7 linked regions of the Homo sapiens genome follow. The protein of the gene in region 2 purifies or fractionates together with the protein of the main gene of each other region. This does not show direct contact. Each region holds a gene or a part of one and is shown on either strand. Other genes may lie near its edges.

Region 1 (3,500 bases), on a different chromosome or scaffold from region 2:
AAACGATAAGTTGCTCCTGGCAGCAGCCAACAGTCAAATACATATTCAATACAGGAGCCAATTTGCCTAGTCATACCCCCTAAGTATATAAACTATGACTGAGTTGTTACATTACTTCCTGGGACTAATAATTGTTTCAGCAACAGTCAAGATCCTTTAGAAGCACGCAATGTTATATCTGCCGGAAAACCCTTCCGTTCTCTTGTCCAAAATAATTCAAATACTATAAGGGGAAAGAAATTACATCTTGGAGAATTCAGTGCCTTTGTGTCTTTGCCTGTTTGCGCTGGGATCCCTCCCTTGCTCCGCTTGATCACAGGGAACTACATCTCCCAGGCTCCCTTTGCCAACTGATTTCAGGATAAGTTCCATCAATGGGAGGCACTGAGGAGGATAAGAGGCAGGAGCAGGGAGCAGCCAGGGTAATACGCTCTCTCACTCGGCCTACTTCCAGCTGCCACCAGACTGCTCCTCTTTCCATGCTTCCGCTCACACCAGACCACTCGGACTTCCAGCCCTTGGTGACACCAGTGCACTATTTTCCTTGCAGGCATAGTAGTTCCCAGGCATTGCTAATCGAATGGGTGCCTCACCAGCCCCTGTTCAGCTTCTTGGCTCTTCTAGCAGCCTTGTAACCTACTCCCTATTTTAAATTCCCTCTGCTTATAAGACCAACAGTGGCTTCTGTTCCTCTGACTGGTCCTTGACTGACATAGGGCCTTCCAAACATATTTTAAAACTTATTTTTCAGAAAATTAATAGCTTTCCTAAGAATTAAAACAATTATTCAGATAACCTAGAAAAGGTCTCTTCTAATATGAAACAAAACATTTACAGATGATAAAATCAATTCATGCATTCAAACAAATATTTACTGAGAGCCTGGTCTGTGCCAAGCACTGTTCTAGGTGCTGGGAACACTACAGTGAACAAAACAGGCATAGGCCCCTGCCCCCTAGCTTACATTCTAGGGATGTGTAAAGTGTGGCACATTATGATTTTAAAAATTAGCCAATATAGGACTGTTGCTTTAACAATAGAGGAATTTGGTAAAAGTGGATTAACTTTAAGGTGTTCTACTCTACAAAGACTTGGTTCTTACCTTTTCAATGTGGTATGAACTGTCACATTCCAGGGGCCAATACAGAACTTCTTCAAAGCTAGTATCTAGTTAAACTGGCCACTTGATCAAACAGGAGTACAACTGTGGTAAGGATTTAAGCAGACACAATAACAAAAGGTAGGCACTGTATGCTTACAGTGTAAAGCATATGCATGTTTTATGCAGAATCTTGCTTGGCATCATTTTTACAGGAAATACCATTTGGAGGAACTGAGTCTGACTCAATTTAATAAGTCACTTTATCCCTTCACTGTAGCACAGGTAGAGTCCATCAACATAACATACAAAGCCAGTGGCAGTGTACATAACAAGTAGAATGTCGCAGTCACCGATTGCATGACACGATTTCCAAGATGGAATTTTCAGGCAGAAGAACAGAAACAGACAATGACTCATGTGATGAACAGTTATATAGACAACTGTGCCCAAGAAAGCTGCCACCTACATACCATAATGACATCAGATGAAAAATGCAGAAAAAAGGTAGTTTTCCAATTTATCTAGAAAAAAAAGATTTGCTGAAAAGTATATATACTGAGAGATGAGACTGCAGCTACCTGTTTATGCATCCTAAGCACTGAGCAACCAGGAGCACACATCAGGTATTCCAAATATGACCTGCTTGAGGCTAAGAGCATGTTCAGCCTCAAAAATCAACATCAAGAGCTCCAGAAATAACATAGTATCTACTGCTGGCACTTCACTAGACTTATGCTAAAATAATTTAATGTACCCACAAAGGTACATTTCAATGGAGAATTTAATCGGCACCATGCTCAGACCTTTCTTACTATTCAGCGATCAGGAAGCGTTTCATGCCTGCAATATTTATAACCCCATGTGAATAGCAGGTGGACCTACAATACTATGGGCTTCTTACACAACAGGAAGTCTAAAGCACAGTGCATATTCAAAATCTCAATGCCACGAAGCAAGTCAACCACAGAGCTCAGGTTTTAACCTTACAGTATCCTGACTACCTGTCAAACTCTACTCCTCATCACTCCTCAACATGCAGTCAAAATATACTAAAGAATCCCCACACGCACACACACACACACAAAACAGTGCACCTTCGAGGCTTTGCACATTCTGTTCCCTCTTCCTAGAATACAAAGTTCCCTAAATTAGCTTGGCAAAGTCATACTTATCCTTTAAGACACAGCCTACTTTTCTCTTTGAAGCCATGACTTCCCGAGGAAGACTTCTTTGCCTTCTTCAATGCTTTCATTTCTCCCTGTATACCATGCCACAATAATTTCTGTATTGCATCATTTATATTTGTACACATCTGCTTCCCCATTAGACTGTAAAATCCTTGAGACTAAAGACTCTTTCTTTTAATCTATATGTCCCGGTACAATGTCTGAGAAAAAGTAGGTAGTAAGTGCTTAAGAAACATTTTCTGAATGACTATATGTAGTGGGGGATCTCAGGCTTGCGAAGTTCCCCTAAAAGATATACATTTTCTATTCTTCATCTCACTGGCACCAAATGATATTTAAAGGGCAAGGAGAACAAATAGGAAAGTATCTCTCAGGGAACAGGTTTAATATGTTGACATTAAAAGACAATCTAATGGGGATTTTGATAAATTACTTTCAGTAAAACTATCAATCTAACCATGACTGTCAGAGTTATAGTGCACTAGCTATAAAAAACCAGAAATATATGTGATCTTGGCTAGAGAAAGGCGTTTAACAACTAGAAATGGAAGCAGAACTCCTTCTGTTGTTTCACGCCATTGAATTTTTTACTTTTTAAAAGGTACCACAGGCTGGGTGCGGCGGCTCACACCTATAATCCCAGCACTTTGGGAGGCTAAGGTGGGCGATCACCTGAGGTCAGGAGTTCGAGACCAGCCTGGCCAACATGATGAAACCCCTCTCTACTAAAAATACAAAATATTAGCCAGGTGTGGTGGCAGGCGTCTCTAATCCCAGCCACTCGGGAGGCTGAGGCAGGAGAATGGCTTGAACCCGGGAAGTGGAGGTTGCAGTGAGCCAAGACCACACCACTGCACTCCAGCCTGGGCAACAGAGCGAGACTCCATCTCAAAAGAGAAAAAAAAAAAGTGCCACAGATACAGCTAAAATAATTTTAAATTGATAGGAAAGTTCATTTCTAAGGAATATTTAACAAGCAATGACTTGGCTATCAACAGAAAACAAATGTAAAGCAAAGCTAAAGATTAATGTACATGAGTTAAAACTTAAGACAACTATGAGAAAATTTCTACACAAAGAAATTCCCTGGTCTAATCTTTCATACAAGTTTGAAATCGGGAAACATCCAGAGACCATCCTCAAGGGTACCATAAAGCACATTTGCAAAAATGCCAGAACTCCATATATAGGAAATGGTTTTGGCTTAAAGA
Region 2 (3,500 bases):
ATAGGTTTTAACATAAGGATATCTGTTCATTTGAGTTGTATACTTTTACCTGAAATATATGGCAGATGCCGTCTTGTGGTATCTTAATTTTAGCTGCTATAACAAATTTCCATAGACTGTGTGGCTTAAACAACAGACACTTATTTCTCACAGTTCTGGAGGCTGGGAAGTCTGAGAGCAGGATGCCACCATGCGCAGCTTGTGGTGTGGGCTGTTCCTGGTTGTAGACAGCTGCCTTCTTGCTGTGTCCTCCCATGGCAGAGAGCAGACAGGAAGCAAGCTTTTTGTTGTCTCTATTTATAAGGGCACTAATCACATCGAGAGGGCTCCACCCTCATGGCCTAATTGCCTCCAAAAGGCCCCATCTCCAAATACCATCATGTTTTGGGGAATTTGAGTTTCAATATGTGAATCTGGGGAGGACACAAACATTTAGTCCATAGCATGAAGCTAATTCCATTTCATCAGTTACATCACATTATGCTCTGCTTGGGGATTAATATTTCAGTCTCTGTGAGTTTTATGTGTTTTACTACGCAAGTATTCTTTCGTCAGATACTACTAGATGGGAAGATAAACAAAAATGTGAATATATAAATGACATCTGTTTTTTTTCTTTAACTAAAGGTCTGGAATTAACTTTCTTCTCTGGTGTATATGGAACCTGTATTGGTGCTACAAATAAATTTGGAGCAGAAGAGAAAAGCCTTATTGGACTTTCTGGCATTTTCATCGGCATTGGAGAAATTTTAGGTTGGTTTTAAAAAAAAGCGTTTGCATTAAAAATATCAGTTTATTATAGGTAAAATAGAAATTTTAAGTGTGCTTCACCTTTGTCCTTGAATTTCTGTTTTTTCTACTTATTTTTACCCAAACGTGTGTTTTTATTTTTCTATTATTGCTATTCTTTTTCTTTTTTTTTTTTTTTTTCCAGACAGAGTCTCGCTCTGTCGCCGAGGCTAGAGTTGGAGTGCAGTGGTGCGATCTCAGCTCACTGCAAGCTCCGCCTCCCGGGTTCACGCCATTCTTCTGCCTCAGCCTCCCGAGTAGCTGGGACTACAGGCGCCCGCCACTATGCCCGGCTAATTTTTTTGTATTTTTAGTAGAGACGGGGTTTCACCGCATTAGCCAGGATGGTCTCGATCTCCTGACCTCATGATCCGCCCACCTCGGCCTCCCAAAGTGCTGGGATTACAGGTGTGAGCCACCATGCCCGGCCTATTATTGCTATTCTAATATAACTAAATTATAAAACATTTGCAAAATAATTCACAGATGGAAACCCTGTGTAAGAAAACATACAATGTCTCCCGACTTTTCCTCCTAAAATATTTAGAAAGTCTTGGAATTCCTGACTCTGGTTCTCTGATTCCCTGTCACCAACTGGGTGTCCAACAGCTCAATCCTGTTCTAACACTTAACTCTCCAAAGTTAGTGTCAGATTCCACAGGTTTAAGGGTTCAGTCCTACAGACAGACAGTCTGGGTCCATAGGCCTCTCAGGCACACCTCTCTGACTTGGGTACAAATTTGGAGGTTCCCATAGCCCTCTTCCCCCTTCATGTTTGATAATTTGCTAGAGCAACTCACAGAACTCAGGAAAATGCTCTCCTGACTATTAGAGTTTATTATAAAGGATACAGATGAGCAGCCTGATGAGGAGGTGCAAAGGGTGGGGTCTGAAAGGGTCCCTAAGTGCAGGAGCCTCTGTCTCCATGGATTTTGGGCTCACCACTCCAGAAGCTCCTCCAACCCTGTTTAGGGGGATTTATGGAGATCCTGTTACATAGGCATGCTTGATTAAATCATTGGCCACATGGCCGGGTGCAGTGGCTCATTCACTTTGGGAGGCCGAGGTGGGAGGATCACTTGAGCCCAGGAGTTCGAGATCAGCCTGGACAACATAAGGAGACCCTGTCTCTAACAACAACAAAAAAACAATCATTGGCCATTGGTGATTGATTTAATCTCCAGCCTTCCCTCCCTGAAGTGGGAGTGAAAGGGGCCTGGAAGTTCTAGCCCTCAGGGCTTGGTCTTTCTGGGAACCAGCCTCATCCTGAAGCTCTATCCTAGGCCAACCCCTCTCTCCCCAAGGGTTGCCCCCTTAGCGTAAACTTCAGTATGGTTGAAAGTGGCTCTTTCTGAATAACTAATGTCCCTCGTATCACTGAGGAAATTCCAGGCCTTTTAGGATTTCTGTGCCAAGAACTAGCAGCAAAGACCAAATATGTATTTTTATTATGCTCCACGAGTTATTCTTTGTTCAACAAAGATTTGTTCAGCACTTGCAGTATATTGAATATTGTGTTAGATATGAGGAACTTCAACAAAGGTTTATTGTAATCTGTCATGTCAACAAAATAGACAAAAATACCTGCCCATATAGAGCTTATATTCTTGAGGAAGAATACAGACAATAAAAACAGAAATCTTTGTATGTCAGGCAGTGGTAAGCACCATGGGTAAAGCGGACTTTGGAGGGTTTGTTTGTTTTTGCTTTTTGGCCCCTGCCTTATTGCCAACACCTGGAGCAGGACAAGGTCTATATTGGGCATCCAATAAATGAGTTAAATGTGTTGAATGAATAATGAGAACATGGTTTCAGCAGAACTTAGTAACCAGTTGCGTGGTGGTGTGAGGAGAGATGTCTAGAATGATGACCAGGTTGATCAGAGTAACCTGGGCAGAGAGAATGCTGTAGGAGATGGGGTTTGAGGAAATCTGCTGAATGGGATTTTGAACACCTCTAAGTACCAGAGAGGCACCCAAGTAGAGAAGTGTCCAGTGGGAAATGCAGGCTGATGCTCAGGAGGGACTCGTGGGCTGGAGGTTGATGTTGGGAGTTATGGGTATGTAAATGGCGGGCGAAGCTTAGCCATGGTGAGTCAGTGCAGGGTTGTCTTCTCTGGTAAGTGCTTGTTTAGTGTCTGCCTGTAGACTACCTGGGAAGAAACTCACTTTCTGTAGGCAACCTGCTTTTTTGAAAAAAATAATTTCAAATTGATAAGAAATTGCGAAAATAGGCCAGGCACAGTGCTCACGCCTATAATTCTAGCACTTTGGGGAGCTGAGGTGGGCAGATCGCTTGAGTTCAGGAGTTTGAGACCAGCCTGGGCAACATGGCAAAACCCCATCTCTACAAAAAAAGTACAAAAAAATTAGCCAGGTGTAGTGGCGTATGCCTGTCGTCCCAGCTACTTGGGAGGCTGAAGTGGGAGGTTGCAGTGAATCCAGATCACACCACTGCACTCCAGCCTGGGCCACAGAGCAAGATTCTGTCTCAAAAAAACCAAAAAACCAAAACAAAAAAAGAAATTGCAAAAATAAAAATAGTACAATGAACATCTGAATATCCTTTAACAGGATTCATCTATTGTTAACGCTCTACCTTAGTAACTTTTTTTTTTTTTTTTTTTTAAGGACAGAGTCTTGCTCTGTTGCCCAGGCTGGGGTGCAGTGGCTCGATCTTGGCTCACTGCAACCTTCGCTGCTGGGATTCAA
Region 3 (3,500 bases), 7.5 Mb from region 2:
ATGTTAAGAATGTTTCATTCTTTTCAATCAAACAGCTAAACCATGTATTTCATACTATGAAGAAAACCAGTGATCAGATGGGCTTAAGAGATTTTTTTTTTGTTTCAATAACTTGAATTGAAGCTCAAGATTATTGAAAGTTAATATTTTCATATGATTAGACTAAAGCTTTTGAGTATAAGAAAAATCAGATTGTTGAGGTCATTCATAATACTGAGTCATTGGTATAATTTGATGACAGAGTTAATACTTTCATCATTTTTTTCTCTCTGTCCTTTTGCAATTCATTCTGTAGGGTTTCTTTGACTCACGCTTCAATTTAGCTCACTAATTCGTCTTTAAATGAAGTTCACCCCATCTTTTAGTGCTTTTTTATTTCTATCAGTTTTTTATTTCATTTCTAAGTTCTGTAATTGCTTTTTTCTTAATTATCTTTCTCTTGTTCCAAGAATATGATATTCTCTATTACTCTTTTAAGGATATTAGTTATACTTTTATACACAATCGTGATCAATGTGTATAATTAGTTGCCATGTACAAGCCACCATTTTCAGCTTTTCATGTATTAATTCTTTTAGTCATTTTAACAACCCAAAGAGGTAGGTACTACTATTGTTGTATTTTACAGATAATAAAACTTAGGCGCAAAAACATTAAATAACTTGCCCAAGGTCTTGAAGTTAGTATGTAGCAGAGGCAGGATTCATGTTTAGTTGGTTTGGCTTCAGAGGTCATACTCTTAACCTATACTACTTTGGGCATTATTAGTTCTTATGTTTGTTAATTTTGGTGCCTTTGTAATATTGGTTAAGATGCTTTTTTGCAAGAAATAGAATCTGATACTGGTTAGCTTAAGTGAAAATGAAAATATATTGGGAAGATAATAGGACATTTCACATACTCCAAGGAAGAAAAATCGAGTTGTGAGCACAGTAGGTGTGGTACATTAGAAGAAAGCTTAGAGTAAGAATGTGTAAACTTTCTTTCTTAAATGTTGCCATTCATGTAATTCAGTTTCCTTGACTTCCATCCAGTCTGTGGGTCTCTTAGTTAATTCTGCCAAGAGAAATTTTAACTGACACAGCTCAAGAGTAGTGGTGGTGGTGGTGATGGTTTGTGTGCGTTGGGATGGTGTTTGGGGAGTTGGTTTAGTTTTGCTTTAAAAAGCTGTGATGAGAGGTGGAGTGGGTGGGCAGGTTTTTTAGACAAGGCCCTTAGAGACTCAACCTTGAGTTCAGGAAGCAGTTCTCAAAAAAACAAAAAATTCTGTGAATCCATCTACTCTATGAGTCTGTTATATAAAAATGAAGAGTTAAGCATCCAACATTCAAAGTGGATTAATAATTTAGTAGCATTCACAAAATCAATGTGTTTTGGCAAGTAACTTGAGAATGTTCATGCTGCATTAGGTTAGTGTTTCTATGTTTGTATTGTAGCAAATAATGCTTGAATGAGTACAGCTTTCTTCCTTCCTTCCCTCCTATTATCAACTCTTTGCTAAATGTGATATAACATAGTTGAGACTGTTAGAAGAATTTATTTATTGACCATTACAGAAGTTTATTTAACAGAGTCTAATATGAAAATATACATGACTTAATTTTTACATCATAGTAAAACAGGCCCTTTTGAGAGGGAGACATGGGTTTTTCTGCTGAACAGCCATTATTTATACTTGTTCCAAGGCTTCTAACATGATGATGCCATTACATCGCATTACCACCATTCCAATATTGTTCTGTTGCCCACTAGTTGCCATCTCCACACATTAATCTATCACAAGATTCATAAAGGGATCAAATCCCCACAATATTCCTTGGACATGTCTGCCACCATTTAATTTTCAATGATAACTTTTTGTCCATCAATTTTTTCAACTCGGGAGTGTAAGCTTTGCTCATGGTGTCTACTCCACAGGTTCACAGATGCCTTGGAATGGAATGCTGGAAGAATTTATTTTAATGTATCTTCTATTCTTGACTGCTTTTGTTTTGCTGTTTTTAATTTACTCATTTAGTATTTTTACAGTATGTCTAATTGTTTAATTGCTTTTTTTTTACTATGTAAGTAATACATAGAAAAAAAGCATGAAGAAAATAAAAGTTGTCTTTAATTCCATTGCTAATTTAAACAGTTCTTTCCAGTCTTCCTTCTGTGCATATAAAGAAGATGCTCATTTAAGCCAAACTTTAATTATATATATTTACTGGAAAAGACAAACTGCCTCTCAAAAATTATGGACCAGGCACGGTGGCTCACTCCTGTAATCCCAGCACTTTGGGAGGCAAAGGCAGATGGATCACCTGAGGTCAGAAGTTTGAGACCAGTCTGACCAACATGGTGAAATCCCATCTCTACTAAAAATACAAAAATTAGCTGAGCATGGTGGCAGGCGCCTGTAATCCCAGTTACTTGGGAGGCTGAGGTTGGAGAATTGCTTGAACCCAGGAGCCGAGACTGTGCCATTGCACTCCAGCCTGGACAAAAGAGTGAGACTCCATCTCAAAAAAAAAAAAAAATTGTGAGTTTTCTTTATTTAGGTGTAGACAGTCTTCCAGCTTGCAACAGATGGTCCTTGTTTTGGAGGAGAGTTATAGCAGTGGCCTCACTAGATAGGTTTATTTAAAACAAGGGCACAGCAATTTCTCTGGAAGGTTTAACAGGATTTTTTTGTTGTTGTTGTTATTTCCCCTGCTATCTTCTCAATACTTCTTAGTATGCAGAGATCCTAGGTTACTGGGTTGAGTGTATTTGAATAGGGGCAGTGGACATTGCAGTTGAGACTCTGACCACTTCTATTTTGAGTTCAGCTGGAATGAAACCTCTGAAGAATCGAGATAGCTCCAATAGAGGTCCACAGGCAGAAAGGATTTCAAGGATCTTCAAAGGGTAAATGTACCCTGGAAGAGGGATACTGGACCTGTGATAGGTACAATGATTTAGATCATTCAATGTTATTTTTTGAAGTAATTTATTAAGGTAAAATTTATTTCCAAGGTAAAACTCCTTACCTTGTAAGCAGTTTCTCCTCATTCTTTACTCTCCCTGGCCTCTGACAATCACCAGTTGGCATTCTGTCCCTACATTTATCTTTTCTGGAAGTTTCCTATAAAGGGAATCATATAACATTTGACATTTTTAGTCTGACTTTCACTTGACATAACGTTTTGTATGTTCATTTTAATTGTAGCATATAGCAGTACTTCATTCCTTTTTTTTTTTTTTTTTTTTTTTGAGACAGAGTCTTGCTCTGATGCCCAGGCTGGAATGCAGTGGTGCAATCTCAGCTCACTGCAACCTCTGCCTCCCAGATTTAAGCAATTCTGCCTCGGCTTCCTGAGTAGCTGGAGTTACAGGAACGTACCACCATGCCCAGCTAATTTTTGTATATTTTTTTTTAGTAGAGACGGGGTTTTGCCATGTTGGCCAAGCTGGTCTCAAACCCCTGACCTCAAGTGATCCACCCGCCTTGGCTTCCCAAAGTGCTGGGAATACAGGCA
Region 4 (3,500 bases), 1.5 Mb from region 2:
ATATTCTCTGATCATTCTAGAATCTAAAATCCAACATGTCAATAGTTGAAGCTAGAGGTAATATGCTATTATCTTTTTTTTTTTTTTTTTTTGAGACGAAGTCTTGCTATGTTGCCTAGGCTGGAGTTGCCTAGGCACAATCTTGGCTCACTGCAGCCCCCACCTCCCAGGTTCAAGCGATTGTCCTGCCTCAGACCCCCGAGTAGCTGTGATTATAGGCACCTGACACCACGCCCAACTAATTTTTGTATTTTTAGTAGAGACGGGGTTTCATCATGTTGGCCAGGATGATCTCGATCTCCTGACCTTGTGATCCGCCCGCCTTGGCCTCCCAAAGTGCTGGGATTACAGGCGAGAGCCATCGCGCCCAGCCCAATTCTTTGTTTTTTTTGAGACAGGATATCTCACTTTGTTGTTTGGGCTGGAGTGCAATGGTGCAATCATGGCTCACTCTCCAGGCTCAAGCAATCCTCTCAACTCAATCTTCCAAGTAGCTGGGACTACAGGTGCACACCACCATGCCTGGCTAATTTTTTTGTATTTTGTAGAGAGCCATGTTGCCCACATCAAACTCTTAAACAAATTATCCTTCCTTTCCCACTAACAGTATCCTAAAGCAGAGTTGAGACAGTGGAAAAATTATTGTTTATAAGCCAGGTCTGGTGGCTCAGCCTTGTAATCACAGCACTTTGGGAAGCCAAGGCAGGAGGATCACTTGAGCCTAGGAGTTCGAGAACAGCCTGGGCAACATGGTGAATGAAACTCCATCTCTACAAAAAATACAAAAATTAGCCAGGTGTGGTACCAAGTGCCTATGGTCCCAGCTACTTGGGAGGCTGAGGTGGGAGGATTGCTTGACCCCAGGAGGTGGAGGCTGCAGTGAGCTGTAATCATACCCCTATACTTCAGCCTGGATGACAGAGTGAGACTCTGCCTTAAAAATAAAGAAAAAAAGCCCAGGCATGGTGACTCATGCCTGTAATCCCAGCACTTTGGGAGGCTCAGGTGGGCGGATCACTTGAGGCCAGCAGTTCCAGACCAGCCTGGCCAACATGTCAAAATCCCATCTCTACTAAAAATATAAAAATTAGCCAGGCATGGCCAGGCGCGGTGGCTCACGCCTGTAATCTTAGCACTTTGGGAGGCAGAGATGGGTGGATCACAAGGTCAGGAGTTCAAGACCAGCCTGGCCAACATGGCAAAACCCCGTCTCTACTAAAAATACAAAAATTAGCCAGGCGCGGTGGTGGGCGCCTGTAATCCCAACTACTTGGGAGGCTGAGGCGGGAGAATCACTTAAAACTGGGGGTGGAGCTTGCAGCCTCAGCGACAGAGTGAGACTTCATCTGAAAAAAAAATTAGCTGGGCATGGTAGCGGACCTGTAGTCCCAGCTGCTTGGGAGGCTGAGGCATGAGAATCACTTGAATCTGGGAGGCGGTCACAGTGAGCTGAGATTGTGCCTCCAGACTGGGCGACAGAGCCATACTCCGTCTCAAAAACAAACAAACAACAACCAAAAAAAAAAAAAAAAACCAGGAGTTCAAGACCAGCCTGAGCCTGAGCAACATAATGAGACCCTGCCCCTACAAAAAATAAAAAAATAAAAAATTAGTCAGGTGTGATGGCACACACCTGTGGTCTTAGCTACTTGAGAGGTTGAGGCAGGAAGATTGCTTGAGCCCAGGAGTTCGAAGCTGCAGCAAGCTATTGCAGCCATTGTACTCCAGCCTGGGTGACAGATCAAGACCCTGTCTCAAAAAATATATATAAATAATAACAATAAAATTATTCTTTCTTGGTTGAGAACACACAGACACACATACATATGATGCTATTCTTAAATATGTCCAGGAAACAGAGATCATGGTGGGGAGGTCTATTTCAGGATTTAATCCCTTGTTTTCACTCAGTAAATTCTTCCTCGAGTCTATCCCATTTCCACCAGCCCATTCTTTGTGGAAACCAAAGACACTCGCAATTGGCCGGGCGTGGTGGCTCATGCCTGGAATCCCAGCACTTTGGGAGACAGAGGCCAGGGGATCACCTGAAGTCAAGAGTTTGAGACCAGCCTGGCCGACATGGTGAAACCCTGTCTCTACGAAAAATATAAAAATTAGCCGGACATGGCATCACGTGCCTGTAATCCCAGCTACTCAGGAGGCTGAGACAGGAGAATCGCTTGAACCCAGGAGGCAGAGGTTACAGTGAGCTGAGATTGCGCCACTGCACTCTAGCCTGAGCAACAAAGTGAGACTGTCTCAAAAAACCAACCAACCAAACAAACAAAAAAACAAAGACGCTCTCATAATAATCCAGCAATAAATTCTCAAGTGGGCAGTCCTTGATCCAGCCCACTGCTGGGTAATTATTTGTTCTGTTTCATAGCAGTAGGTTCTGTCTTCCAGGGAGGCTGTGAGCTCCTTTGAGGCAGGGACATAGAGCACCCCGCACAGTGCTGCCCACAGTCATGGGTTTTACAAACTGACTGCCAGACAAACTGAAAACCCGAACCTCTCCCAGCTTTGCTTTCTGCAAGGACAAGAACTCAACCTCTGCCGAGTGCGGTGGCTCATGCCTGTAATCCCAGCATTTTGGGAGGCCGAGGCGGGCAGACGGCTTGAGCTCAAGAGTTCAAGACCAGACTGGGCAACATGACGAAACCCCGTCTCTAAAAAAATACAAAACTCAGCCAGGTGTAGTCTCAGCTACCGGGGAGGCTGAGGCAGAAGGATCACTTGATCCCAGGAGGTCGAGGCTTCAGTGAGCAGTGATCATGCCACTGCACTGCAGCCTAGGCAACAAAACAAGACACTGTCTCAAAAAATATATATATAGGCCAGGTGCGGTGGCTCACGCCTGTAATCCTAGCACTTTGGGAGGCCGAGGCGGGTGGATCACCTGAGATCAGGAGTTCAAGACCAGCCTGCTAACATGGCGAAACTCTGTCTCTACTAAAAGTACAAAAAATAGCTGGGCATGATGGCAGGCGCCTGTAATCCCAGCTACTGGGAGGCGGAGGCAGGAGAACTGCTTGAAATCAGGAGGCAGAGGTTGCAGTGAGCCGAGATCTGGCCATTGCATTCCAGCCTGGGCAATAAGAGCGAGACTCCGTCTCTTGAAAAAAATAAAAATAAAAATAGGTCGGGCACGGTGGCTCACGCCTGTAATCCCAGTACTTTGGGAGGCCGAGGCAGGCGGATCACGAGGTCAGGAGATCGAGACCATCCTGTGACTGGTGAAACCCTGTCTCTACTAAAAATACAAAAAATTAGCTGGGCGTGGTGGCGGGCACCTGTAGTCCCAGCTACTCGGGAGGCTGAGGAGGGAGAATGGCGTGAACCCAGGAGGCGGAGCTTGCAGTAGCCGAGACTGTGCCACTGCACTCCAGCCCGGGCGACAGAGTGAGACTCTGTCTCAAAAAAAATAAATAAATAACTAAAAATAAAAATAAAAATAAAAATCATATATTTAAAAAAAACATGCTTATCAAATAAAAGAA
Region 5 (3,500 bases), on a different chromosome or scaffold from region 2:
AGCCTGGGTGACACAGCAAGACTCCATCTCATAAAAAAGGCTAGGTCTTGAACCCCGGGCTGTCCGTTGGGTTGTGGTTCAAGGGAGTGGAGTCATCCAAACTGTACCTGGGCCACAGGAGGTGGGGTCTCTGAAGCCTTCTGCTCCTCTCCAAGGACCTCATTTAGCTCCGCCTGCAGGGACACACAGCCAGGGCAGGATATAAGGGCCTGCTGGATGGGGGCAACCGGATCAGAGCCCCCACCCCGCCCTCAGTGCTCACCAGCAGGTCATCATCAGCCTCCAAGTCGTCCTCATCCGTCCCCTCCTCCTCATCCTCATCCGGGTCTCTCATGCACAGGCTGGCCATCTTCTCAATGGCCTCCATCGGCAAGGGACCTGGCGGTAGGGGGATGCCCCAGGTGGACCAGGGTCGTACACCAAGAGCCCCCATTTCCCATCCTGGACACGCTAGGTGATCCCACTTCTCGCTGACTTCCCCATTTCATCTCTTCCTTATTCAGCCTCAGGTCTGGGGCCTGGCTACCTGAATTCAAAACCCAGCTCTGCAGACCGGGCACAGTGACTCACGCCTATAATCCCAGCACTTTGGGAGGCCGAGGCAGAAGGATCACTTGAAGTCAGGCGTTCAAGACCAGCCTGGCCAACATGGTGAAACCCTGTCTCTACTAAAAATACAAAAATTAGGCTGGGCGCAGTGGCTCACGCCTGTAACCCCAGCACTTTGGGAGGCCGAGGCGGGTGGATCACAAGGTCAGGAGATCGAGACCATCCTGGCTAACACGGTGAAACCCCGTCTCTACTACAAATACAAAAAATTAGCCAGGCATGCTGGCGGGCGCCTGTGGTCCCAGCTACTCGGGAGCCTGAGGCAGGGGAATGGCGTGAACCTAGGAGGCGGAGCTTGCGGTGAGCCAAGATCGCGCCACTGTACTCCAGCCTGGGCGACAGAGCGAGACTCCGTCTCAAAAAAAAAAAAAAAAAAAAAAAAAAATTAGCTGGGCATGGTGGCGTGTAATCCCCGCTGCTAAAGAGGCTGAGGCAGGAGAATCACTTAAGCCCAGGAGGCAGAGGTCGCAGTGAGCTGAGATTGCGCCACTGCACTGCAGCCTGGGCAACAGAGCAAGGGTTTGTCTCCAAAAAAAAAAAAAAAAACACACACACACAACAACAACAAAAAAAACCCCAGCTCTGCAACTTTCTCTCTGTGAGAACTTCGGCAAGTGATGTCACCTCTCTGAGCCTCAGTTTCTCCCTCTGTGACACGGGGATGACAACAGTTCCTCCTTCATAGGTAGGTTGGAGCAGAGAAGGTCAATGAAGCTCTTAGAATAGCATATTGCCAATATCTTGTTATTAGTTATGTTACATTCTATAAAGCTGCTTTGAAGACTAAATTAATGACTATAAGACTGTTGCTCCTAGGGGAAATTTAAGCTTAGGTTCCTGTGAATCTCCAGTCATAACCTTTTTTGGAGACAGGATCTTGCTCTGTCACCCAGGCTGGAGTGCAGTGGCCCAATCAGAGCTCACTGCAGCCTCAAACTCTTGGCCTCAAGTGATCTTCCTGCCTCAGCCTCCCGAGTAGCTGGGATTACAGGCATGCACCACCACACCCAGCTCTGGTCACAAAATTTTAATCAACTGATCAATACACAACCTTGCTCTATGTGTGTTTCTGTTTGAAGACACCTTCCTGAATAGATATCGTTCATTCATTAACTTTGAATTCACAGCCAACAGCACAGTAGTTCATGCCTGAATGAAGCTTCTCTCTTTTTTGTTTTTTGGAAACAGGATCTTGCTCTGTCACCCAGGCTGGAGTGCAGTGGCGCAATCTCTGCCCACTGCAACTGCTGCCTCCTGGATTCAAGCGATTCTCATGCCTCAGCCTCCCAAGTAGCTGGGATTACAGGTGTTCGCCACCAAGCTTGGCTAATTTTTGTATTTTTAGTAAAGACAGGGTTTCACCATGTTGGCCAGGCTGGTCTCGAACTCCTGGCCCCAAGTGATCTGTCCACCTTGGCCTCCCAGAGTGCTGGGATTACATGCATGAGCCAATGTGCCTGGCTGACATGAGCTTATTGTGTGTGAGGGGGCCCTGGGTGAAATACTTATGGACTCCAGATTAACTCCTATAACATGGTTATTATTCCAGTTTTACAGATGGTGAAACTGAGGCCAAAGCACATGATGTGACTCATCAAGTCACATAACCAGTAAGTGGCAGAGCTCGGATTCCAACTCTCAGTCTCGGTCCAGACTTGATCTTTTTTTTTTTTTTTTTTTTTTTGAGACGGAGTCTTGCTCTGTCGCCCAGGCTGTAGCGCAGTGGTGCGATCTCGGCTCACTGCAAGCTCCGCCTCCCTGGTTCACGCCATTCTTCTGCCTCAGCCTCCTGAGTAGCTGGGACTACAGGCGCCCGCCACCACGCCCGGCTAATTTTTTTTTTTTTTTTGTATTTTTAGTAGAGACAGAGTTTCACCGTGTTAGCCGGGATGGTCTCAATCTCCTGACCTCATGATCTGCCTGCCTCGGCCTCCCAAAGTGCTGGGATTACAGGCGTGAGCCACCGTGCCCGGCCTCAGAGTCGATCTTGACTCTCTTACCCAGATCATTGGCTCCAGGAGAACAGGGGTCTTCTCTGTCTTCTTTCCCCTACCTACCCAGTGCCCCCAGTTCTGCGCCCGAACCACTTGCAGGAGATCAGAAAATGTTCTGAGGGTGTGTTAACCATCTCACCTTTGCCTTTGAGCTTCTCCAGGGCTGGGGGCTGGCCCCCGACCAAAGCCAAGAACTCAGCCTCCAGTTCTTCATCGTTAGCCCCGTCCTCAGGGATCATCAGGCCATCTGGGGAGAGGTCAACCAGCAGGCCCAGCTAGGGGAACAGCAAGGGTTCAGTCAGACCTTTGGTTCACCACATGGCTAGAGGCAGCCATGATGGCCAGAGAGTCCCCTTGGGAGGAAGGAAACAAGGTCTCCCAGGGAAAGCCATTTCCCTGGGGAGTGCCAGGAGGCTGGAACAAGCCCAGAACAGGTGTTCCAAGATAGGCCAGGCCCTCTGGCACAGTTCAACCTGGGGCAAAGGGCAAGAGACCCAGCTCTCTGATCTGAATCCACACTTATGATGTGCTGCTGGGCCAAGTTCAGTGGGAAAAGCAGGCCCCTGGCTGGGCGCAGTGGCTCACGCCTGTCATCCCAGCACTTTGGGAGGCCAAGGCAAGAGGATGGCTTGTGTCTGGGAGTTCCAGACCAGCCTGGGCAATACAGTGAGACCCCCAACTCTACAAAAAAAAAAAAAGTTTTTTGTTTTTTGTTTTTTTTTGACACAGAGTCTCGCTCTGTCACCCAGGCTGGAGTGCAGTGGTGCAGTCTCAGCTCACTGCAACCTCCGCCTCCGGGGTTCATGCCATTCTCCTGCCTCAACATCCCGAGTAGCTGGGACTACAGGCGCCCGCCACCACGCCCGGCTAATTTTTTTTTTGTATTTTTAGCAGAGA
Region 6 (3,500 bases), on a different chromosome or scaffold from region 2:
CAACTCCCGACATTTATAGTCACAGCACAATGTTTTCAAGTCACTTAAAATAATTATTTCAGTTTTGTTAGTGTCACCAACTTCATATACAGTTAGAATAATGTTTCCTTTTGTCTCAATTTTTGGCAGTTACTTTTGATTTCATCTTTTAAGTTATGTAAAAAAAATGTACACAGATACAGACACACACACACACACACACACACTTTACTTGCTTATCCACTCCCTCTTCCAAATTCCTTCCCAAACTCAGAGGTGAACCAATTGTATTAGATTTGGTTTATCATCCCATTGTTTGTCTCTTTGTGTGTATATGTGTGGGTTTGAGTGTGTGGTGTTTTCAAAGAAAAACATATTGTCAATATCACACTGTGGTAAAATATAGTTCTCCTTCCATTTTACCATTGTGTACACATAGTATCTTATTCCATCAGTCCTCTATTATTGGTATTTACATTGTTTCCAGTTGTTTGCTTCTGCAAACATTGGCACAATAAATAATTTGCGCAAATACCATTTACTATATTTGACAACTATCCTGAGAATAAATTTTTCAAAGTAGGATTTCTGAGCCAAAAAGTAAATGCAGATGTAATTTGGCAAATAATGCCAAATTTTCATTCACTAGCAAGGAATGAATATACTTGTTTTCAGTCACTACTGCCAACAAAGTATGTTGTCAACATTTTGGATTTTTGCCACTGTGATAGAAATGGCATCTAAGTGTAGCTTTAATTTGCATTTCTATTATGAGCAAGATTGGACATCTTTTCAAATGTTTAAAGGTCATTTGCATTTCTTTTTTGTGAACTAGCTGTTCATAGCTTCTATTTTGCTTTGGAGGTTGGCCTTTTTCTTCTCAAATTCTGAAGCTCTTTATAGAGTAAGGATATTGGCCCTCTGTCTGTGATATGATTTGTAAACTTTACTACTTAGTTTGCTATTTGTATTTTGACTTCAGTTAAGGTTTTGTCTTCATCCTGTAAAAGTTCATCTGTCAAATTTATCTTTTCTGCATTCAAAATCATAGTTTAAAAAGTTCTCCCACTTTTAGGTTATAAAGGGATTAATCCTAATTTCCTTCATATTCATATCTGTCTATACATTTTGTAATAAAAGGTCAGACTGTTTATAAAATCCTTGGTTTGTTTTATTTTCCTGATTTAAATATGTCACACCATTGCTTATCCGTTTGAGGCACTGTAGTCAAGAAGCAGCATGTCAATCTGATTTTCTAACATTTATAAATTAATTGATCCTTTTGCCTAGGTATTTAGGAGTTTTGTTGTTTTCTTAAAGTTCAAGAATTTCACTAACCTGGGTTGATTTTTTTCAGGATTGTGGTGTCTTTTCAATATGCAGGTCCCTGTGTTCTTGATTTAATGTTTTGCATTTGTCCAGTTCTATTCCTTTGGTTTTCTTCTTCAGATGCTCCAATTACATACATGTTTAGTTTTCTTTATGTGACTTTTAGACATTTTCTCTCAAATCCTTTACACAATTTGTTGTTGATGTTTTCATTCCTCCCGTTTATGTTCTATTTCCCTGACTGTATTTCCAATGTATTTGTACTTGTGTTCTTCCAGTTTTGTGGAAATGTTTTTCTTCTAATTCTTTCCAGAGGTCTGTAAATTCTCTTTGCACATACTCCCATTGTTTAGTTATCTCATTTCTGAGCTTCTCAATTTCTGCCTTATGCTGTCCTGTTATAGCTTTTATAGTATTAAGTTAAAGTGTTCATCTGCTCTTTTCACATGCCTTTATTAAAGTGTCAGTATTTTGCTTAGCTTACTTTCTTCAACTTCTTAAAAAGTATATTTGTATAATGCTTTGTTGCAATCCTTTCCAGGTGCTCATGTTTAAATGAAAAGAGCTTTTGTACTTTCAAGAAAAGGTTTCATTTGCGGTGATGGAATATGCCAGCGTTGCTTTGCTAGCTTCACTGTTCAAGGGCTCCATCCTCTGTTGATATACAAAGTATTTGAAAATATGGCCTCCATGTATATTTATCTCCACAGTTTTGAGATGATCTCCCTAATATGTCAATCTGTTCTCTCCTTCCTTCCTAACTCCTGTCCTGTAAACATTGGATTCTACTCAACTTTTTTCTTGAGGATATGTATTTGTATCCTTTTGCAATAATTTTTGCTTCCACATTTCCTAACGTCTCTGAGGATTTAGGATGGTCCAGTTCCTTCTGATCTCGAAGATACTTAGCAGGTCTCTTGTGGTCTTTTTGCACTTTCTCCAAGCTAGAGCATGCAAATCTTGTCATTTTTACAGATTATTCTTGGAAATATTTGCTGGGTGTCCTCTTCTTTTGGGACAAAGTATTTGCTTTGTGTATCAGGGCTCATATGATCCTTAGTAACTCTTTTTGCTTTCCTTCACAACCTCCACACAGCTGCTAAGGCCGTTGGGGTCCCTGCTGTCACCATGTTTAAATACCAATTTTTATCCTGGGGTTGTGGAGTACACCTTATTATCCAATTTTTAATGAAAATTTTATGTGTGTGTGTGTTTGTACTGCTATTCTAGATCTATTTCCATAGATTTGAGAAGATAAAGATACCATACTGCTTTCAAGACCTTACCCCAACCAGAAAATCCTTTCTTGTCTGTTTAAGGATACAAAGCATATGATGACATAATTTAACTACGTGACAGCATTTTTTCTTTTAATAGTTTTAACTAGTTATTATACATAATTTGAAAAAATACAAAAAACAAAAATAAAACATAAAACACTGCCATATTCTTAGAATCACTTACGTTCTTCTTGGCCTTAATCTCTGATCACTATATGGAATCAATGCCACCAGTTGGTTTTCTTGCCCTAAATGTGAAAGAAGTAAGTTCAGAAATTACTATGATTAGTTAAAAATATAATGGCTCCCCATCACAATCTGGTTTGGAAAGACCAGAATATCATCTGGCACTCATCTCTTTCCTTTAGTAAATTGCTAAGTCTTCAGAAAGTATCCAGCAGAAGTTCTAGAGAAGACAGCGTGTTTTTTCACACGTAAATGTCTAGCTAAAAAAAAAAAAAAAAAAGTATAACAAATGAGGGCTTACTTTTTCTTCCACTAAAAAAAATCTAAGTCCTAGCTTTCAGAAGAGCTAAATTTACCAGGCCTTCCTTCAGCTTCACTGGTGTCCATTAAGACTCTGATTTGGTTGTCTGGATGATAAAAGAAGAAACATATTGGTATCGCCCTTTCCTGAAACCTCTATCATCTCTATCACTGCAGAGCTTCTGACATTGTCCCCCTTGAAAACCAAAACCGGCCTCTGAAGTAGAAGTCTCAAGCTTTAAGAGCCCCCTACATAATGAGCCTTCCAGGGCCCTTTCAGGTCTCACCCCAATCCATGTTAAAGTCACTTCAAAATCCGTGATTTCTTTCTTGGGTTGAGCTATATCCATAAGTTTAAAGGATAAATGGACCTTTAAATGCCAATTTTATAATCTTATTAGAAGTTGGCTTATCATATTAACTATT
Region 7 (3,483 bases), on a different chromosome or scaffold from region 2:
GGTCCACCTCCCCACAGACCTCCCCTGCTGCCATTCAAGGGCCACCTTGGTGAGATGCCCCGGCCCCCACCAGCCACCTCAGACTCTGGGATCTCTCTGTCCTCCTCGCCCCTCCCCCACTCTCAACAGGGGTTGTGAAACAGGTGGGGTTGGGCCCAGGGGTGACTGACACATAAGACCTGCAGGACAGCCTGAAGAGGGTGGCATGCCCCGCACCCAGGCAGAGGGGCAGCGGCTGGTGTGTCAGGGGTGCCCTGAGGAGTTTCTTGTTTGCCCTGCGCTCATGGTTTAGCCACAGCCCAGCATGGCACTGTCCAGAGAGGCCATGGCCCTGTCATGCCTCCCATGTTCCAAGAAGCATCTGGCTCCTGGAGGGCTGCTCCTTCCTTTCCCCCAACCCCTCACCCTCCTGTCTCCAGGGCACCCTCCCTCCCCCATGTGACCACGCCCTGGACGGAAGCCCTGCTGGGATCCCAGTGACCCTTGGTTTAGAAGATGCAGACGGTGTCAAACTCTGCTTTATTGGAATAGAGAATACAGGCAGCAGGAATCACGCTTGGTGCTGGCAGCTCCAGGTCCCCTGCCCCCACGGGCTCTCCCACTTGTCTGGATCAGGGGAGACCTCCACTTTGAAGAACAATATGGGGTGGGAGCTTCCAATGTGCATTCTGCTACCAGCCTCAGGATTAGCAGCAAGATGCCAACAGCAACAGCAACAGCAACAGCAACAGCAACAGCAACAAAGGACTGGACTCGACACTTCAGGAAAGGACGTGTAGAAGAGAAAGTCAGACCCACAGTGTCACGTGTTAACAACGGTCCCACAACAGCAGACACGACACTGGTGTGCACGGCTGTACCACCTGTGGGAGGCTGACAGCACACCGACAGCCCTGAGGGGCCCGGCATTCTCACTCCCAACATGAGAAAGAATTAACACAACACACACACATGTTCACATTCTCTGCGAGGACAGTCAAATTAAGGTACCAAAGGGAGGATAAAACATTTTTAGAGAACACAAAAGCCTGCTGCCCTGCCCCAGTAGGCGTCAGGCTGGACACGACAGGCTGGCTGTGGCCTGGGCTAGCCGGTGAGCTCGACAGGCAGCTCACGGCCACACAGGGCCTCCCACTGGCGAGCCAACAGCGAGATGAGCTTCTCTCTGCTCTCAGCACTGGGGACAAACACCTGCCACTGGACTTCACGGCCCTGGCTGGCTCTAGCCGGGCCACCTGGCACCTCCCCAAAGTGGTCCAGGGTGACACTGCCCATGAGGTCATGACCTTGCACGTCATCGAAGACGAGGGTGAGGGCCTGCGGGTAGGTCTGGTAGCCCATGAGCACTCGGTCCAGGTCCCGGACGCGGCGGCCATCGTCCAGCCGGTACCTGTCTCTCTGCGGCGGCTCTTTGGCAAACTCGGGCAGTGGGTAGTGGACACAGTCCTCATCCAGGAGGAAGATCTCGGAGCTGGTGAGCAGGAGTGTCTTGGGGCGCAGGGGGCCCCTGCAGCACCCAGGGGGTGGCATGCCCACCTGGAAGGCCTGCACGTACAGCAGGATGCTGAGGGCTGGGGCCTTCTCTGGCTCAGCCATCTTTTGGGCCACAGTGAACGTCAGGTCCCCAATCTCCTCCTCACTGGGGTAGGTAAACTTGACGCGACTAGAGTGGATCAGCTCGTAGTTCTCCATCTTCCCTGCAGAGAGATGCCACCTGGGCTATAGCCTGGAACCGGCCCCTGGTGGGGCTGGGAGCACCAAGGGCCCCAAGCCAACCGAGAGACCCCGGCATGAGACAGGCAGGAGAGGATGCTCCAAGTGTGGGGCCCACAGGCCAGGAGCCCAAAGCAGGCACTGGAGATGTGTCTGCCAGATGGTTGAGGGACTGCTGGAGTGGAGACTCTGCCATCGAAAAGCCCCACATAAAACCCTGGCCAGCTAAGTGAGAAAAGAGAGACATAGAGGCAGAGAGGGTTCTGGGGCACAGAGAGCCACCCTGGGGCCCATGACGTCTGTCCAGGCAGCCTGTCTGCAGCCTGAGCTAGACAGGGGTACCTGTGGTCTTGTTCCCAAACTCGGAGTAGAAGTCCTTGTCAACAGGCTCCGGCGAGGGCGTGCGTTCCAGAGAGGACAGCACGACCATGAGGTGCTGGAGGAAGCAGTGCGTCAGGTAGCTGTCCCGCGTCAAGCACGTGACCACCTGCATCGGGGTGGAACCTGCACGAGAAGGGGCTGGTCAGGGCCACAGGCCGGCGCTCCCCAGCCCTATCCCTGCCCCTTAGAGCCACCCCGAGTCCCTAGCAAGCCTCAGCCCAGAGGCCAGGGCCAGGAGGGCCCACACAGGAAAGAATCATGGGGCCCGGGAGGAGGCCATTCCTTCAGGCCGGAAGAGCTGAGGCATTTTTCTGGAAGGGGAGACAGAGACATTAGGCAAAGAGCTTAGCTTTCTCTCCTCAGGAAATGTGAGTCAGAAACATCCTGCCCGAGACCAGGGCCCACTCTGCTTCTGTCCGGGCCAGCGCTTGCCGCACACCCTACCTCCTGCTCTGAGCCCTGGAGCGTGAGTTCTGCTCTCTCAGCAGTTCCTGAAGCTGCTTCCTCCCACCCCGGTTAAGAAGTGGCTCTTGAGCACAGAGATAACTGTCTATGATAACCCACCCACGTACGGAAGGTGGAAGCCCACTGGTGATGCTGGCCTTCACCCGAAATAGGACAAAGCACAGAGGGTCACCCACCCGTCAGCCGGAAATGCTGGTCGAAAAGCCCCACATTGACTGACTGCAGGTCACTAAGCTTTAGCACGAAGCACTGGGAGATGTGGAAAGGGCTGTTGTTGTAGTCGGTGTTTTTCTGATGCCAGAAATCTGTGTGATGGAGAAAGGGACAGAGGGAGGCGGTGGCAGGCAAGCACAAGGTTCCTAGGTGTGCAGCACATCCAGCAGGAACAGGTCCTCTTGGCTGGCCTGGCTTCCACCCGTGCAAAGCCCCATAGGCAATGCCCTCTGGAGTCGGAGCCTCTTCCAGCTCAGGGGAGTCACCAGGTCGCTGGCTAGGGCTTCCTGTGCAGCCCCAGGGGCAAAGGCTGCCTAACCCCTTCTCATCACTGGCTGTTCCCAAGCAGTCACCAGGCCCTGGCTCAGTGCATTCTGCGTTCACATCTGGCCATGGACCCCTCCCTCATGACAGCTCCCTTCCTCAGACAAGGAACTCTCAGCCCACTGCAGCCAAGTCGCTGACTGCTGCCTGAAGCCACACAGCTGGCTCCAGAGAATGACCCCCCAGGCCTGCCCCAACCACACACTCCAAGCTCCTGAGCCCCAGCAGGCCCTGTGCCTACCCTGCAGTGGCTCTGAGAAGTAGCGGCGGAGGCCGTCGTGGAGCACAAAGTACACAGCCTTGGTGGAGAGCAGCACGCAGGCAGTCACCTCCAGCCCTGGGGTCTGGTAGAACACCACCGAGGACCACATGAGGTGCCTCAGCTCC

Evidence for each region.
Region 1: the proteins of MFSD11 (region 2) and SMAP2 purify together in Homo sapiens (affinity purification with mass spectrometry; one large-scale study listed by BioGRID and IntAct). This does not show direct contact.
Region 3: the proteins of MFSD11 (region 2) and ABCA5 purify together in Homo sapiens (affinity purification with mass spectrometry; one large-scale study listed by BioGRID and IntAct). This does not show direct contact.
Region 4: the proteins of MFSD11 (region 2) and SLC25A19 purify together in Homo sapiens (affinity purification with mass spectrometry; one large-scale study listed by BioGRID and IntAct). This does not show direct contact.
Region 5: the proteins of MFSD11 (region 2) and CC2D1A purify together in Homo sapiens (affinity purification with mass spectrometry; one large-scale study listed by BioGRID and IntAct). This does not show direct contact.
Region 6: the proteins of MFSD11 (region 2) and TMEM106B purify together in Homo sapiens (affinity purification with mass spectrometry; one large-scale study listed by BioGRID and IntAct). This does not show direct contact.
Region 7: the proteins of MFSD11 (region 2) and NISCH purify together in Homo sapiens (affinity purification with mass spectrometry; one large-scale study listed by BioGRID and IntAct). This does not show direct contact.

The regions. Positions count from the first base shown.
Region 1 is NC_000001.11:40,380,227-40,383,726, reverse strand, and holds part of SMAP2 (stromal membrane-associated protein 2), read right to left. Parts: exon of another isoform or gene 1,103-3,500; intron 1-1,102.
Region 2 is NC_000017.11:76,769,119-76,772,618, forward strand, and holds part of MFSD11 (UNC93-like protein MFSD11), read left to right. Parts: intron 1-627; coding exon 628-753; intron 754-3,500.
Region 3 is NC_000017.11:69,317,134-69,320,633, reverse strand, and holds part of ABCA5 (cholesterol transporter ABCA5), read left to right. Parts: intron 1-3,500. UniProt on the Homo sapiens protein: Cholesterol efflux transporter in macrophages that is responsible for APOAI/high-density lipoproteins (HDL) formation at the plasma membrane under high cholesterol levels and participates in reverse cholesterol transport.
Region 4 is NC_000017.11:75,279,434-75,282,933, forward strand, and holds part of SLC25A19 (mitochondrial thiamine pyrophosphate carrier), read right to left. Parts: intron 1-3,500. UniProt on the Homo sapiens protein: Mitochondrial transporter mediating uptake of thiamine diphosphate into mitochondria. It is not clear if the antiporter activity is affected by the membrane potential or by the proton electrochemical gradient.
Region 5 is NC_000019.10:13,909,201-13,912,700, reverse strand, and holds part of CC2D1A (coiled-coil and C2 domain-containing protein 1A), read right to left. Parts: intron 2,879-3,500; coding exon 2,743-2,878; intron 379-2,742; coding exon 263-378; intron 174-262; coding exon 108-173; intron 1-107. UniProt on the Homo sapiens protein: Transcription factor that binds specifically to the DRE (dual repressor element) and represses HTR1A gene transcription in neuronal cells. The combination of calcium and ATP specifically inactivates the binding with FRE.
Region 6 is NC_000007.14:12,217,794-12,221,293, reverse strand, and holds part of TMEM106B (transmembrane protein 106B), read right to left. Parts: intron 2,837-3,500; coding exon 2,773-2,836; intron 1-2,772. UniProt on the Homo sapiens protein: In neurons, involved in the transport of late endosomes/lysosomes. May be involved in dendrite morphogenesis and maintenance by regulating lysosomal trafficking.
Region 7 is NC_000003.12:52,490,086-52,493,568, reverse strand, and holds the end of NISCH (nischarin), read right to left. Parts: coding exon 3,338-3,483; intron 2,865-3,337; coding exon 2,736-2,864; intron 2,218-2,735; coding exon 2,056-2,217; intron 1,698-2,055; coding exon 1,087-1,697; 3' UTR 501-1,086; downstream 1-500. UniProt on the Homo sapiens protein: Acts either as the functional imidazoline-1 receptor (I1R) candidate or as a membrane-associated mediator of the I1R signaling.